Linked DNA regions of Homo sapiens. The protein of the gene in region 1 purifies or fractionates together with the protein of each later gene. This does not show direct contact. Each region holds a gene or a part of one and is shown in the gene's direction. Other genes may lie near its edges.

Region 1 (7,041 bases):
TTTTTAAAGCTTTTTTAGTATCAATTAAAATTTTTGTTTTTTTTAAATTACAGTTATACATGCATAGTTTTAAAAACTAAACATTTCAGTCTGGGCACAGTGCCTAACACAAACATTATGGGCTCACACCTGTAATCCCAGCACTTCGGGAGGCCAAGGCAGGCAGATCACTTGAGGCCAGGAGTTTGAGACCACTCTGGCCAACACAGTGAAACCCCATTTCTACTAAAAATAGAAAAACTAGTTGGGTGTGGTGGTGCGTACCTGTAATCCCAGCTACTTGGGAGGCTGAGGCAGGAGAATTGCTTGAACCTGGGAGGCAGAGGTTGCAGTGAGCCAAGATCACGCCATTGCACTCTAGCCTGGGCAACAGAGCAAGACTCCATCTCAAAAAACAAACAAACAAACAAAAACAAAACAAAACAAAAAAACATTTCTGTAATCCCATCATTTTGGGAGGCCAAGGCAGGGAGGATCACTTGAGCCCAGGAGTTCAAGACCAGCCTGGGCAACATGGTGAAACCGCATCTCTACAAAACATTAGCTGGGTGTAGTGGTGCATGCCTGTGGTCCCAGCTACTCAGGAGGCTGAGGTGGGAGGATCTCCCTGCAAGGCCGCAGTTAGCCATGGTTGTGCCACTGCACTCCAGCCCAGTAACAGAGTGAGACTCTGTCAAAAACAAAAACAAAAAAAACCTAAACATTTCTCCAAGGTTTGTTAGGAATGTAGGCCATCCCATTGTCTGCCCCTTTTCCTCCCTCTGCCTTCCTCCATTTTCACCTCTTCTCAGACAACCACTTTTGCCTTTTTTGCTGATTATTTTGGTATAAATCTCTCTCTCTCTCTCTCTCTCTCTCTCTCTCTCTGCCCCCTCCCCCTCCCTCCCTCTTGCCTGTAGTCCTACCTCTTAACTTTTTAGTGTTAGGCATTATCTTTTGATAACTTTCCTTTCCAAGGAAGCTATATTGTGATTTTGATTAAGTTGGTATTCAGCATTACATTGTTGTACTTTTGTTTTTTGAGATAGAGCCTGTTACCCAGGCTGGAGTACAGTGGCAGAATCATAGCTTACTGCAGCCTCAGTCTCTCGGGCTTAAGTGATCCTCTCACCTCAGCCTCTCAAGTAGCTGGGATTACAGGTGCACACCACACCCAGCTAATATATATGTATGTATATATTTTAGTAGAGCTGAGGTCTCACTGTGTTGTCCGGGCTGGTCTCCAACTCCTGAGCTCAAGAGATCCTCCCACCTCAGCCTCCCAAAGTGTTGGGATTACAGGCACGAGCCACCATGCCTGGCCTACGTAAGTGCTATTTCCAGCCGAGTCAGTAGTAATCTGTGACTGCATTTCTTGTTCAATCTTTGTGTACTTTGAAGTTAATAATTGTCTCTCTTGCTCGTTTTCTATGTAGTTATCACTAATCAACACCCAATTCTATGTCAGTTCTCTAAGTCTTATTTTGAGGTGTTTAGATAGGTTAGACTTATGCTTATTTACCTTCCTGAAGAAGTTGCTTCTAGAATTTTCTGCCCCATTCCATTCTAGCCTGGTCACCTTCTAATCCCGGGACCTCCCTTTACCATTATCCTGGGGATTCACTTCACCTCAGCCCATGTTGGACAGAGAATTACAAGAACCTTCAGTTTCCTGAAGGAATATAGTTTCCAACCTAGGCAAGCAGTCAGTCAATGTGAGGGTATGGTAGATATTTTCAGACATGCAAGTTCTCAACAACAACCAATTCCCCTTAAATGCTGCTTTTCCTCGGGAAGTTGCTAGGGGAGTTGTTTCTCTAAAATAACAGTGTAAGCCCAGGAAGAGGAAGCGTCCTGGGAAACCTGACACGAAGCGACTGTACTGTGCTGCAAGCCCATCTCAGTCTAGAAGTTCGGTCTTCAGTGCTGGGGAATTTTCTTGAAAGAAAATTTCAATTAGTTTTTCCTGCCATGATCCATAGTTATTTTTTGGCAGTGAGGAATAAGAGAGTTAAAAAACTGAATGAAAACTCTAGGTGGGGACAGGGTCCCTCAGTCAGTGTGCAGTGACTTGGCCACACTGTTTGGGGAAGGACACTGCACATGTCATTGTCTCTTAGGTCTTTCTCTTGGCTGGTCAGGTCCTCCTGCTTGGGGGGGTAAAGGCCTGGCTACCAGCATTCCTAGAACTGACCACTGTAGGTCACAAGAGGTTGGAGGGGTCCAGAGGGCACCTCACCCCCATGTGCCAGCCTTGCCCTCCCCTCCTTGTGGCCAGCACACCTCTCTTGCTCTTGCAGTGCCAGCCTCAGCCAAGCAACTTCTCCGTGGGAAAGGGCTGGGGCCAGGCTTTCCAGAGCTGGGGTGTGATTTTTAAATAGGCTTTCTTTCTGGCTTCCAAATTTTTATTACCCCTATTTCCTTTCCTTTTTTTCTTAAGGGTTTATGCCCTTTTTATAAAGCTCCTTTTCTGTTGTTCTAGTGAAGTTTTAGGAGAGATTAGAAGATACTAGTGTTCAAGCCACCATCTTTACTCAGAAGTCTGTACCAGCCTAACTTCATAGGTATCATAGCATTGAAAGAACTAATTTGATTGGCCGGGGTGCAGTGGCTCACGCCTGTAATCCCAGCACTTTGGAAGGCCGAGGCAGGCGAATCACCAGGTCAGAAGTTTGAGACCAGCCTGACCAACTGGTGAAACCCCGTCTCTACTAAAAACACAAAAATTAGCCGGCCGTGGTGGCGCGTGCCTGTAATCCCAGCTACTCCAGGAGGCTGAGGCAGGAGAATCGCTTGAACCCGGGAGGCAGAGGTTGCAGTGAGCCGAGATCACACCACTGCACTCCAGCCTGCGTGACAGAGCAAGACCCCATCTCAAAAGAAAAAAAAGAAAAAAAAAAAAACTAATTTGTTTCAAATGGCAATCATTCTTCATATATGTTACTATGTTGGAACAAAATAATAATAGGCGTCCCACTCAGGTAGACAGATACCATTCTTCCAGGTAGGACTGTGGTATGAATAGTACTTTAATGTTTTCTATATTTTAATGGTAAAGTTGAGCATGTGTAGACGGGTATTTATAGGACGGATCACTAGCCAGACACTTGTAAGCTCCTATAGAACATTAATAGCTATACCTTATCCTACTTTTTTCCTTAAGACAGCTGTGAAAACAAACAGACTAGGAAAAAACCCTGAGGGAAATATTTTTACAAGCTGGGTCAGAAGAGGTTTTATTTTATAGTTGTTCATCCAAAGCATACTTGTCTTTAGGCAATGCAATTGATTTGTTTTAAATTAAGAAAAAAATCTTAATACCAGCAACATATGTAGTCTTTGTAACATTTTCTCTATTTATTAAATATGATTATTACTTTAATAAATATAGTAAGATGAAAAGTAAATATTTGCCCTTGGGTTTTTTTAACCTGAAAATGTGTAATAGGCACATAGTTATTCATTTGAAATTATCTTTCACACTATCATCTATCCGATATCTACAGATAACTCCAAAATTTACATCATAGCCCCCTCCCTTCTCCTGAGACATGGCGCATCGTTCCCAGACACCTAGTGGTGTCCGTCTGAATCCTGGTGCTCTTCTCCCTGTGCCACAGGCATAGGCAGCCCTAAATGGAGCGTGATTTCTTCCCCTTTACTCCACCCCTGCGTTTTTTCCTAATGCTCTCCAGTGATGGATTCTAACTCAGTGTCGCCAGCTTTCTGGTTGCTTAAGCTACATGTTTGAGAGAAGTTTCTAACCCTGTTTTTAATTCTTAACCCTCCCATCTCCATAGCTGGATCTGTCAATTCTAATTTAGAACTGTATCTCGTAATTATTCTTTCTTAAAAACTGTCTGTTCCCATTGCCCTAATTCAGGCCCTGTCTCTCTTGCCAGTTTCTTAAAATGGCTTCTTAGTCTTCTCATGATGCTAACTTCTTACTCAGCAGTCCGTCAGACATCAGGCTGCTGCAGACTTTTGAAGCACAATTTTGGGTTGGTTTGTTTGTTTGTTTGTTTGTTTGTTTGTGACAAGGTCTCTCTGTTACGCAGGCTGGAGTACATGGTGTGATCTCAACTCACTGCAGCCCTGACTTCCCAGGCTCAAGCGATCCTCCTACCTCAGCCTTCCAAGTAGCTGGGACTACAGGCATGCACCACCACGCCTGACTAATTTTTTATATTTTGTATAGACAGCGTCTCACCATGTTGCCCAGGCTGGTCTTGAACTTCTGGCCTCAAGCAGTCCTCCCACCTCAGCCTCCCAAAGTGCTGAGATTGCAGGCATGAACCACCACCTGGCCAGTTCTGTCATCTGGGAGTCTTGAAGCACACTTCTGTTGATCATCCATCTTCTCCTTCCTCCCTCCTTCCCTGTCTCCCTCCTTCGTTTCTCTTCCTTTTTCTCTTCCTCTTCTTCCTCCCCCTCCTCCTCTTCGCTAGTGGTTTCCCCTTATATCTTCAAAATAACAGTCATGGTATTTAAAATCCTTTACAGTATGACCCAATCAAAAAATTGTTTTGAAATTGCATCATTCTTATGTCGCCAGACTATTCACCACTCCCATCGGCTGGAAATGCTGTTTCTTCAGATTTCTACTTGTTGAAACCTACTCATCTTTCAAGCCCCCTCCCTGATGCTGCACCCCCCAGGGCCCCTCCTGGGGTGTCTTTTGTTGGGATTCCTTTTTCTGTCCTCTCCTGTGGCACTTTCAGCACTACCGAGCAGCCCTCAGAAGAGGCCTAGTAGCACGTGTTTGCAGTGTTTTTTCTTCCTTACTAGTTTAGGATCAGGAACTCGATCTTACCTTTCTTTTTCCCTTCGTTGTAAGTCTTTCTTGGAAATGATGTTTAATCAGGGAAACTTGCTGCATTTAATATCTTAGAATTTTAGGTAAGGGTTTATCTGTTTTTAGGTACATACAAATAATAAACAGGCCAAGTTCCTTAATATCTTATGATTTACTAAACTTTTGTATAGGTCTGTCACACAAATAATATTCAGAACTCAACTGCCTGCAATCTTGTTTACTCTCAACAGTGGAGAAATAGTAAAGTAGTCTGTTCAGCAGAGTCAGAGTCCATCACAAACAGGTCAGCTTTTTCCAGCAGTGTTCAGGGCTGTTTACTCTGATTGACAAACAATTCTGAGTAAGCCGTTTCATCTGGCTTCCAAGCCTGTAGCAGAGAAGGAACAATAAGACAGTCCTAAATGTGTAAGATTCTCTGTCATCTACTTAAGTGAACAGGTAAGTTTACAGTACAGTTTAGAAAACTTTCCATTGAAAATGGTACAAATAAAAAGGAATTTAGTATCAGTCCTGAGCTATCTAAATGGGTCTCAGTAGCCAAAGTTTTTGTATCTGAAGGATACACAATATCCTTTGACAACAATTAGTTGACCTGAGGGGGAATATTGATGAAACAACCCTGTAGGGGATGGAAACGTCCCTTCTGTTTCCCAGTAACTCAGCTGGAATCGGTAAACTGACATCACCAGCTTCCTGCATCCCACCATGTGAGTTACTGACTTTGTATACCTCCTCTCCCAGTTTTGGAATCTGAAGTTGAAAGAATTGCTTATTTTAAGTCAGTGTAGTAACTAAGCTTTATTTAAAAGCCCTGTTTTCAGTGGCTCATGCCTGTAATCCCAGTACTATGGGAGGCCAAGGCACGAGAAATTGCTTGAGCCCAAGAATTCAAGACCATCCTGGGCAACATAGTGAGACCCATCTCTACAAAAAATAAAAAATTAGCCGGGTGCGGTGGTGCACCTGTGGTCCCAGCTACTTGGGAGCCTGACTGAGGTGGGAGGATCACTTGAGCCCAGGAGGTTGGGGCTGCAGTGAGCTGTGATTGTGCCACTGCACTCCAGCCTGGAGTGAGACCGTATCTCTAAAAAATAATAAAAGCCACTTTTTAAAAACCTAGTATCTTCTTGAAAGGTGTTTTTTTGCATTAAAATGTTAATTGAAGAAATTCTTTCTAATCTGTTAAGCATAAAGTTAGCCAAAAGGGTCATTCTTGGCTCATTGTGTGTAATGGCCAAGTGGTGTAGAGCATCTGCAAAGTAGATTAATAGAGGTTGTTTTGGTGGTGGCAGCTAAAACCTAGGGGCACGTTGAAAGTCCTGGAAGAAATTTCATAATGAGTTAATAATGTATGCCTCATGCCGCTTATTAACTTATAATAGAATCAGTGTTTTAAAACCATGTTTCTGGTCAAATTTTAGTCAGATATTAACTTAAATTTTTACGTACTTTTTCCTCCTTGTAGAGTCTTCCTAATATTCTCACCGATGATCGATTTAAAGTTATGTTTGAGAACCCTGACTTCCAAGTAGATGAAGAGAGTGAAGAATTTAGGCTTCTGAATCCACTTGTTTCAAAAATTAGTGAAAAAAGGAAGAAGAAACTAAGACTCTTAGAGCAACAAGAACTTCGTGAAAAAGTAATGTACTCCTTATCAGTTAGAATTTGCTACTGTTTCTTTAATGTAATGTTTTCTTTGTAAGTTAGAAGAGTCTTTGATTATACTTGAGATGTAATTAATTCCATATTAAGTGTTTGACATTGGGCTTAGGAGTATTATCTTATTTATTTAAAGGCATTTCTCCTGATGCATGCAGTAGAGCAGCTGTTAGGCACTCATTAATGGGCCAGTGCTGCTTCAGAGAAACCAAGGGGTCTGTGTTTGACTGGGGGAAAGGAGTTGCTGCTTACTATTTTTATTCTCAGGAAGAGGAGGAAGAGCCGGAAGGAAAACCAAGTGATGCAGAAAGTTCGGAGAGTTCAGATGATGAAAAAGCCTGGGTTGAAGAGGTCAGGAAGCAACGCAGACTCCTCCAGCAGGAGGAAAAAGTGAAGCGGCAGGAACGACTCAAGGAGGACCAGCAGACAGTCCTAAAGCCCCAGTTTTATGAGATCAAAGCAGGAGAAGAATTTAGAAGCTTCAAAGATTCTGCCACAAAGCAGAAACTGATGAAGTGAGTAGCACTGCCTGAGCGCACAGTTGACATGTAACCAAGCCCTTGCTTTTCCTCTCTGGCACATTGCCC
Region 2 (7,041 bases), on another chromosome or scaffold:
TGCTTTGGGCTCACGAGGGCTGCGGGTTCTGGAGACCTTGCTTTTGGAGCTTTGGCAAATGGAGGGCTCATAGGAGTGCAGTCAGGATGGCAAGCAGACTCGGTCACAGGAGGAATGGAGGCAACTGAGGCCGCTGAACCCGGAAAAGAACAGATTTAGTTAGAAGAAGACATCAAATAGTTGAAGTGCTGCCACAGGGAATAGTAGTCAGCCTTACTTCTCTCTGGCTTTAGAGGGACAAGAGCCCATGGCTGTAAGTCCTAAAATGACAGAATTGGGTTCAGCAGGAGGAAGAATGTTTGTGTGTCTCCCCAAATGGAGTGGTTTGTCTGAGACACACTTACTGCATGTATTCACCTTCCCGATCTAGCTTCTGCTGTGCCTTTCATGTCTTTGTGAACCTCCACAAAATCTAACAAAGTTCAAATAAGCATTCAAATATTTTTAATTAATTGATTATACCTGTAGTATGTTAGGTTTTGAGGCCAGGAATCATATACATCTAGTACATGTTTAAGCTTCCACCACACTAAGCAAATTGTTTTCAAAGACAAACGTGAAAAAAGGCAGCATCAGTACATCACCAATAATTTTAAAAGCACACATCTGTCATTGGTGACCGCGCTGGTCTGTGCAGAGCAGGCGTGTGTGTGAATCTCTGTGCTGACTGACCATATCTGGGCAGACTCTACTTGTAGGGTTTCAGATCGGATCCAGACCCTGCTAGCCGTGAGTGCTGCTATGATTGGAACCCTTTGTCCGACTTGCCTGCCGTGTGCTTTCTTCTTTTCCCTTGATTCTGCAATGTATGTATGGGATTGAGTTAAGGCAGAAGCAAATGCTACAGCACTTTTGTGTGCAGTGTGGGAGAGGTAGAGGATTAGAAAGGAAGGAAGGGCCATGACATTCTGGGATGTGTCTTATGTATTTAGGGAGACCCCCCACTCCTAAGAAGCAACAAATGAACAATTTTTAATTAGTCAAAGGCAAATTATGTGTATCATTTTATGTATTTATTTATTTTTAATAGAGACAGGGTCTCACTGTGTTGCTCAGGCTGGTCTCAAACTCCTGGGCTCAAGTGGTCTTCCCACCTCAACCTCCCAAAGTGCTGGGATTACATGAGCCACCATACCTGGCCTATGAGTCACTTTTCGTCTGGAAAGCAGCAGCATTGTCTCCGCCAGCTCCTTTGGAAGACTGGCACATAATACTTGCTCGGAGACCATGATGCGCTTTGGGAGGCTGCACAGGCTTTTTCGGGGAGCAGTGGAATGGCTGTGTTCTCTCTGCTGTCCACCTGTCTTTGTGGGTAGGTACAGCTCAGGGATGTCTTGGAGGCCTGGGGGTTCCAGGGCCAGTGTAGGAGGAGTGTGGTTTTCTGTAGAGTGGATGGTACAATTCCTTCAGAATCCCCAGTGCTGCAAGCTACTGACCTAGCAAATTGAAAGCCCCACACAGATTATTTGCAGGTTTAATATGCTCCTTTGTACTGTTTGCCCAAGTGACATCGTGAAAGACAGTGATCTGTATTGTGGTGGGGTGAGTGCACATGTGGAACTGAAAGGAACATATTTGGGTCCACACATCGGTGAGGGGCTGCATTCTCATACACATACACCCCCATTTCACTCAGAGCTTTTAAAACCTTACCTGCCACTCAAGTGATTGCAGTTCACAGCTAGCTACAATGTGCATACTTTAAGTCTCTTCAGAAGAATCACATAATAAATAAGCCGAATCCTAAGACAGACAGACAGACAGACAGACACACACACACACACACACACACACACACACGCACATTCTGTCTTTATGGAAAATGGCGGCTAATCCATGATCATTTTTTTTTCTAGAAACAGGTTTTAAGATAATATAGTAAAAATATTAAATTAGAAAATGCCTCACTAAGGGTTATAAAACCTTACTGCACTAGAGATAGGTAATTATCCCCTCTACAGCTTAATGACAGTTTAAAAGAAATAAAAATGTTAGTGCTCATTACTTGCTTTTGTAGTTTGCAATAAAGGGTAAGTTAAATTTTAATTCAAGGAAGAGCCCCTGCTATCGACCTTCTACCTCAGGTCCAAGTCCTGTTAATTACTCCGCAGGCTGCTCCCCTGCATGATACCAGCATGAACGCATTGTCTACAGTGGACACTCCCACTGACCATGAGTGTGTGTGTGCTGGGGGGTGGGGGTATTACAGATCAGTGATTTGCATCTTGATTCTTAATGTGATGGGGAGCAGGAATTATGTGTTTTTTTAAAAAGTTGATTATGCATAGCCTTAAGGGGACCTCAGGTATGAAACTACACACTTACCCTGGAGAATCTGATGGAACAAGGTTAACCTGGAGGATTGATAGTTTAGCTTCTCCACATGGCTAAATCCCAGTTAGGAAGATGCAGCCGGGGGGAAATGTTTATGCAGTGGAAGGCGGTCTGGCCCTCTGTCCAGTGGCACCTTTTTGTAGCCTCGTCTTTACTTGCAGTTTTTCTTGGGATGGGGTAAGGGCTGTGGACATGTTTTGTTTCTTTTCAGATGTCTTTGCCTTTCCCTAAGCACCTAGACACCTGCCTAGGTTTGAGGGAGGAAGAGCTCAGTGCACCCTGTGGCTCAGTCTTCACACTGGGGTATGCAGAGACTTTCCAAGGGGAAGGTAGACACAGATAGTCAAGGAGTCAGTCTTCAGACGTACGCTCTTTCCTAAAGCTGTCTGCCCCAGAGCAGGCCTGTGCTGGAGGGCTAGGTTGTCCTTTTACCCTCGTCCTTCTCTGGCCTTGAAAAGCCTCCCTCGAGCCCCTCCTTAAAGTGACATGGACCTCGGGCTGCCACAGGAAAACCTCCAGGGCCTCAAACCCAAGGACAGCTGGAAATATGGGTACAGAGATTGAGAAAGCAAACGCCTAAGGACTAGAGGACAAGCCCTGTGCAGGCCGGGTGGTTTCTGGGTCTTCACTTCCAGCAGAATCGCTGGAGAACACGAGTTGAATTGAGTTGGCAGTTGGTTGACCGTTAGGACTAATGTTTGGGGACGAGTCACTGTGCGATTTTTTGTGTGTGCTGTATAATTCAGAAAGAGCAAAAAGAATCAAGTGGCATTGCTATGCCAGAACTCTGTCATTCCTATCTGCTTGTTTATATGACAACATTTCTCAGTGCTTATGTCTACAAAAAACAAAAAAATAGGAGTAGAATTGATGCTGAACCCTCCTTCATTCTGGCAATAAATAATATTCCTCCATGGATCCATGAACAAATGGAGGGAAAAGCCTCATCCATATCATTAAGGGATGCATTTCTAATAACATTTTACACATGTATGAATACTAAATTTTCACTAAAATTAGGATATATTATATCATATTATTATATATTGATTATATCCTAATAATAATCCAGAGGAACATTTTTAAACTACTTAGAGCCTTATAATGTCAAACAATTAAAATATTTTCATTTCAATTTTTTGAATTTTAAAAATTTCAAAAGTGCTTTTATTTACAGACTAATGTGGCCAAGAAGTATGATAAGGGTGATTGATAAAAGACATTCAAGCATGAAACCATTATATTAGGACAAAACTCTGTAGGGAAAAGTCAGGTGGAAATAAAATTTAAAAAGAAAAAGGTGCTATAAAATGTCCAAGTTAAAAAGTTTATGTGTGGCCCACGCCTGTAATCCCAGCACTTTGGGAGGCCAAGACGGGCAGATCATGAGGTCAAGAGATGGAGACCATCCTGGCCAACATGGTAAAACCCCGTCTCTACTAAAAATAAAAAATTAGCCGGGCGTGGTGGTGCGCACCTGCAGTCCCAATTACTTGGAAGGCTGAGGCAGGAGAATCGATTGAACCCGGGAGGCGGAGGTTGCAGTGAGCCGAGATTGCGCCACTGCACTCCAGCCTGGCGACAGAGCGAGACTCCATCTCAAAAAAAAATAGTTTATGTGTTACTTGAATGAACGATGAGTATCAAATCATTATGGCATGTAGGTTCCATTGCAGGCATTACAAAAGTTAATTTTCACAACATCCTGGTCATTATATATTTTGTAACTATTTAAACTTACTGTGAAAAACGTTATAAAAATGTGCAACCCTACCTTCTCCAACCTAGTAAAGAGGGAGGAAGGGCTGTGCCTCCCTGTACCACCCAGCTGCTCAGGGCAGGAGCCAAAGCCAGGACCTGGAAAGAGGAAGGGCTGAGGCCAAGCTGAACCGCTGGAATCTACAGTGGGGGTGGCTGGTGGGGGGCGTGTGGGGCGGGGATCTTCATCCCCATGCTGCTCCTGGGCCCCAGGGAGGGTCTGCTTTGTCTGTCTCAGAGAAGGGAGTGGAAGAGTCAGCCAGGAGGTTGTTGCTGTGTGCTTCATGAGAAACGGTGAGATCTGACCTAGTGGAAGCCTGGAGGAGCTGTGAAGTTTGAGATGCTTTGAAGGTAAAAACGGTCACCAGCTGGTGATAGTGGGTGAGGAAGATGTAAAAGTTGAAATTGCTTGGGGACTTTTAGATTGAAATAATCCCCTATTGATATTCTCTCTCTCTGAAAATATTTTAAGAACCCAGACCACTCAGCTTCCCAGGTTGCTTTGCCATGAACAGCTGCATATGTTTGTCAGCTTTGCCCACCTGAGTGTGAAATGATGTTCTATGAAAACATGGGTTTCAGCATTTCACTCTCTGCTCCTGACACGTGAACCCTGCTGCGGACAGTAACTGCTGCCTTCGGCCCAGGCGTTGCACTGATATTGCGCGCAGAGTGGAAGCATTTGCTCAGTGGTAATGATGGGGTCTGGTGCAGGCAAGCGCGGCGAGGCTGGAAAGGGTATGATGTGAAGGGCTAGCCTCGCGCCTCTGCATTTCTTTCTCATCAGACGTTGTTGTCCTAAAGTCACACTGTCCTTTTGTTATGGCAACTCTCCCTTTCACGCCATTTAATTTTTTGTGTGGAAACAGCTAGAGAGACTTGTCTTTACTGGCAAATAGGCAGGCCATGGTGTGATGAAGTGGAGCCTGCCCTGGGCACCGAAGTATCCGTGTGACGGAGCTGCTGATTTGGAAGCCGTGGGTTTGCATTTGGTCTGGGGCTGCCGTCCACCTTGGCAGGCTTCGTCTGGGCTGATTGAGGCTAGTCACATGGATGTGTGTAACAGAAGAGCAGAAGAGATGGGTGGAGCCAAGGGGGAAGCTGTGTCCTTTGTCTGTGGCCTAGGGGTCTGCTGGGTAGTTCAGGGTGAAGGCACCAGCACATTCTTGGGATAAAATTCCTGTAATAAAATTGGAGGCCTGTTGTTTTCTGGCCTGCACTTTCACTGCCTGTCCCTCCCGCGGTCCCCAACATGATAAGGCTAGCTTACATTTGTGGCTTCTGTAGTTCTTCCTTAAGATGTTTTTCTTTTGACTTTTTTAAAGCTTTGATACTCTATTCCTTTTGTTGGATTTCCTAATTGTAGTACCTTTATTCCTATCCATAACTATAGTAGGGTGACTTCAAAAAAAGACCAGTAGTTTTTTGTGTTGAAGCCTTGCTGTTTGAAAGGTGGGGTTTTTTGGTTTTGCTTTTAAAGTCTGATGTGCCGATGCTGACCCTCAGATGATGAGAGCACTTTTAAAACAAGACGGCAGGCTGGAATTTGAGTTCCATCTTGAGAATATCCGAGCAGGTGTAGATTTCTTCTGGGGCTCCTGGCCCATGACCTCAGCCCTGTGTGCGCCTGCCCTGTCTCTGTGAGGGCTACCGGCTGGGCCTTCTGCAGGGCGTGGACATGGATGGCTGCCTCTGCGGCCACGTGCTACACGCCCACCTCCCTGATGACAGGGACGTCCTCACACGGGTCTTGCCTGCTTGGAACCTCATGGGTCCCTCATGTCTCTGCAGGGAGGATCTGCTCTGTATCCACAGGGGAAAGTGTTCTGGAGCTTCTGTCTCAACGATAGGAAAGATCCCTGCCCCACCCACACCCCTTTTAGGTTTTCCAGGCCTTGACACATGGCTTTGGCCGATGTTTGTGTGTATGTTGCATTTAAAAGAGTTTGAAAGTGGTCATTTACTTTTCTTTTTAGGGGCCCAAGACCCTGGCATGTTATTGTTTTAATGTCAAAACCCAACTTTAGAAATAAATTAGCCAATCATATTATTTATTAGACTGAGAATAGAGACAGGGCAGCTGGGGAGTGTGGAAGAAGCTTGGTTCTCTTCCTGAACAACTGCACAGATGATAGTAATTGGAATCGTGTTGCTGGCTCATTTTCATTGTTTTTCAAGTACTGCCAAGTCCAAGAAAATGTATGAAAACTAAATTATATCCCCCTACATCCCATGTCTGATTGAATCCTCCTCATCGGATGGCGGTCTCCTACATCCTATTAAAATATTCAATCTTGTTTTCTTACTTGAAGAGCCTGTCTGCAAAGGGCAAACTTACAGAACACTCATTCCCTGGAGACGGGTGTCCAGCCGCACTGGACCATTTACATATTTTACTGTTTGATTGGGTTTCTTCCTTCTGTTGTATTTGTGAGTAAGAGCTGTGGGGTGCATTTTTAATTACATGGCTGTGTTTTCAACAGAAGAAACAGAATGGGGTATTTTCCAGCTTCTGCGTTCCTTTTTAACCTTGAATAGTGAACCAGTGTGTTAACCAGTTTGCTGTGTTTGTCTTTTAGGACAGAACTGTACCGCTCTCTTTTTGGCCAGCTCCACCCTCCCGACGAAGGCCACGGGGATTGACATCGCCCACCTCCGACACCCAGTGGGCGCCTTGGCTGGTGCGGCTGCTGGTCCAGATGGAGGAAACCAGTGACTTTATGGGGCTGAGCTAGTAGGGAAGCCCCTGGAAAGATGCTGCGTTCCGAACCTGTGCCTAATACACGCAAGGGCGCTGTCCCGCCCAACCCCGCCTTTAAACGCCACAAATAAAGAGCATTGTTACCGCCACCACCGCTTGTGATTTCTTAAGAGGCTGAGAGTCAGTCTGGTTTGGTTCTAGTGGATGACACATTTACTGAGCTTTTTTTTTTCTAGTCCAGTGGCCTC

The links.
Region 2: the proteins of NOL10 (region 1) and AATF purify together in Homo sapiens (affinity purification with mass spectrometry; 5 studies listed by BioGRID and IntAct, with this or other methods). This does not show direct contact.

What each region holds. Positions count from the first base shown.
Region 1 is NC_000002.12:10,588,971-10,596,011, reverse strand, and holds part of NOL10 (nucleolar protein 10), read left to right. Parts: intron 1-6,260; coding exon 6,261-6,434; intron 6,435-6,721; coding exon 6,722-6,969; intron 6,970-7,041.
Region 2 is NC_000017.11:37,049,930-37,056,970, forward strand, and holds the end of AATF (protein AATF), read left to right. Parts: intron 1-2,325; exon of another isoform or gene 2,326-3,233; intron 3,234-6,671; coding exon 6,672-6,735; 3' UTR 6,736-6,942; downstream 6,943-7,041. UniProt on the Homo sapiens protein: Part of the small subunit (SSU) processome, first precursor of the small eukaryotic ribosomal subunit.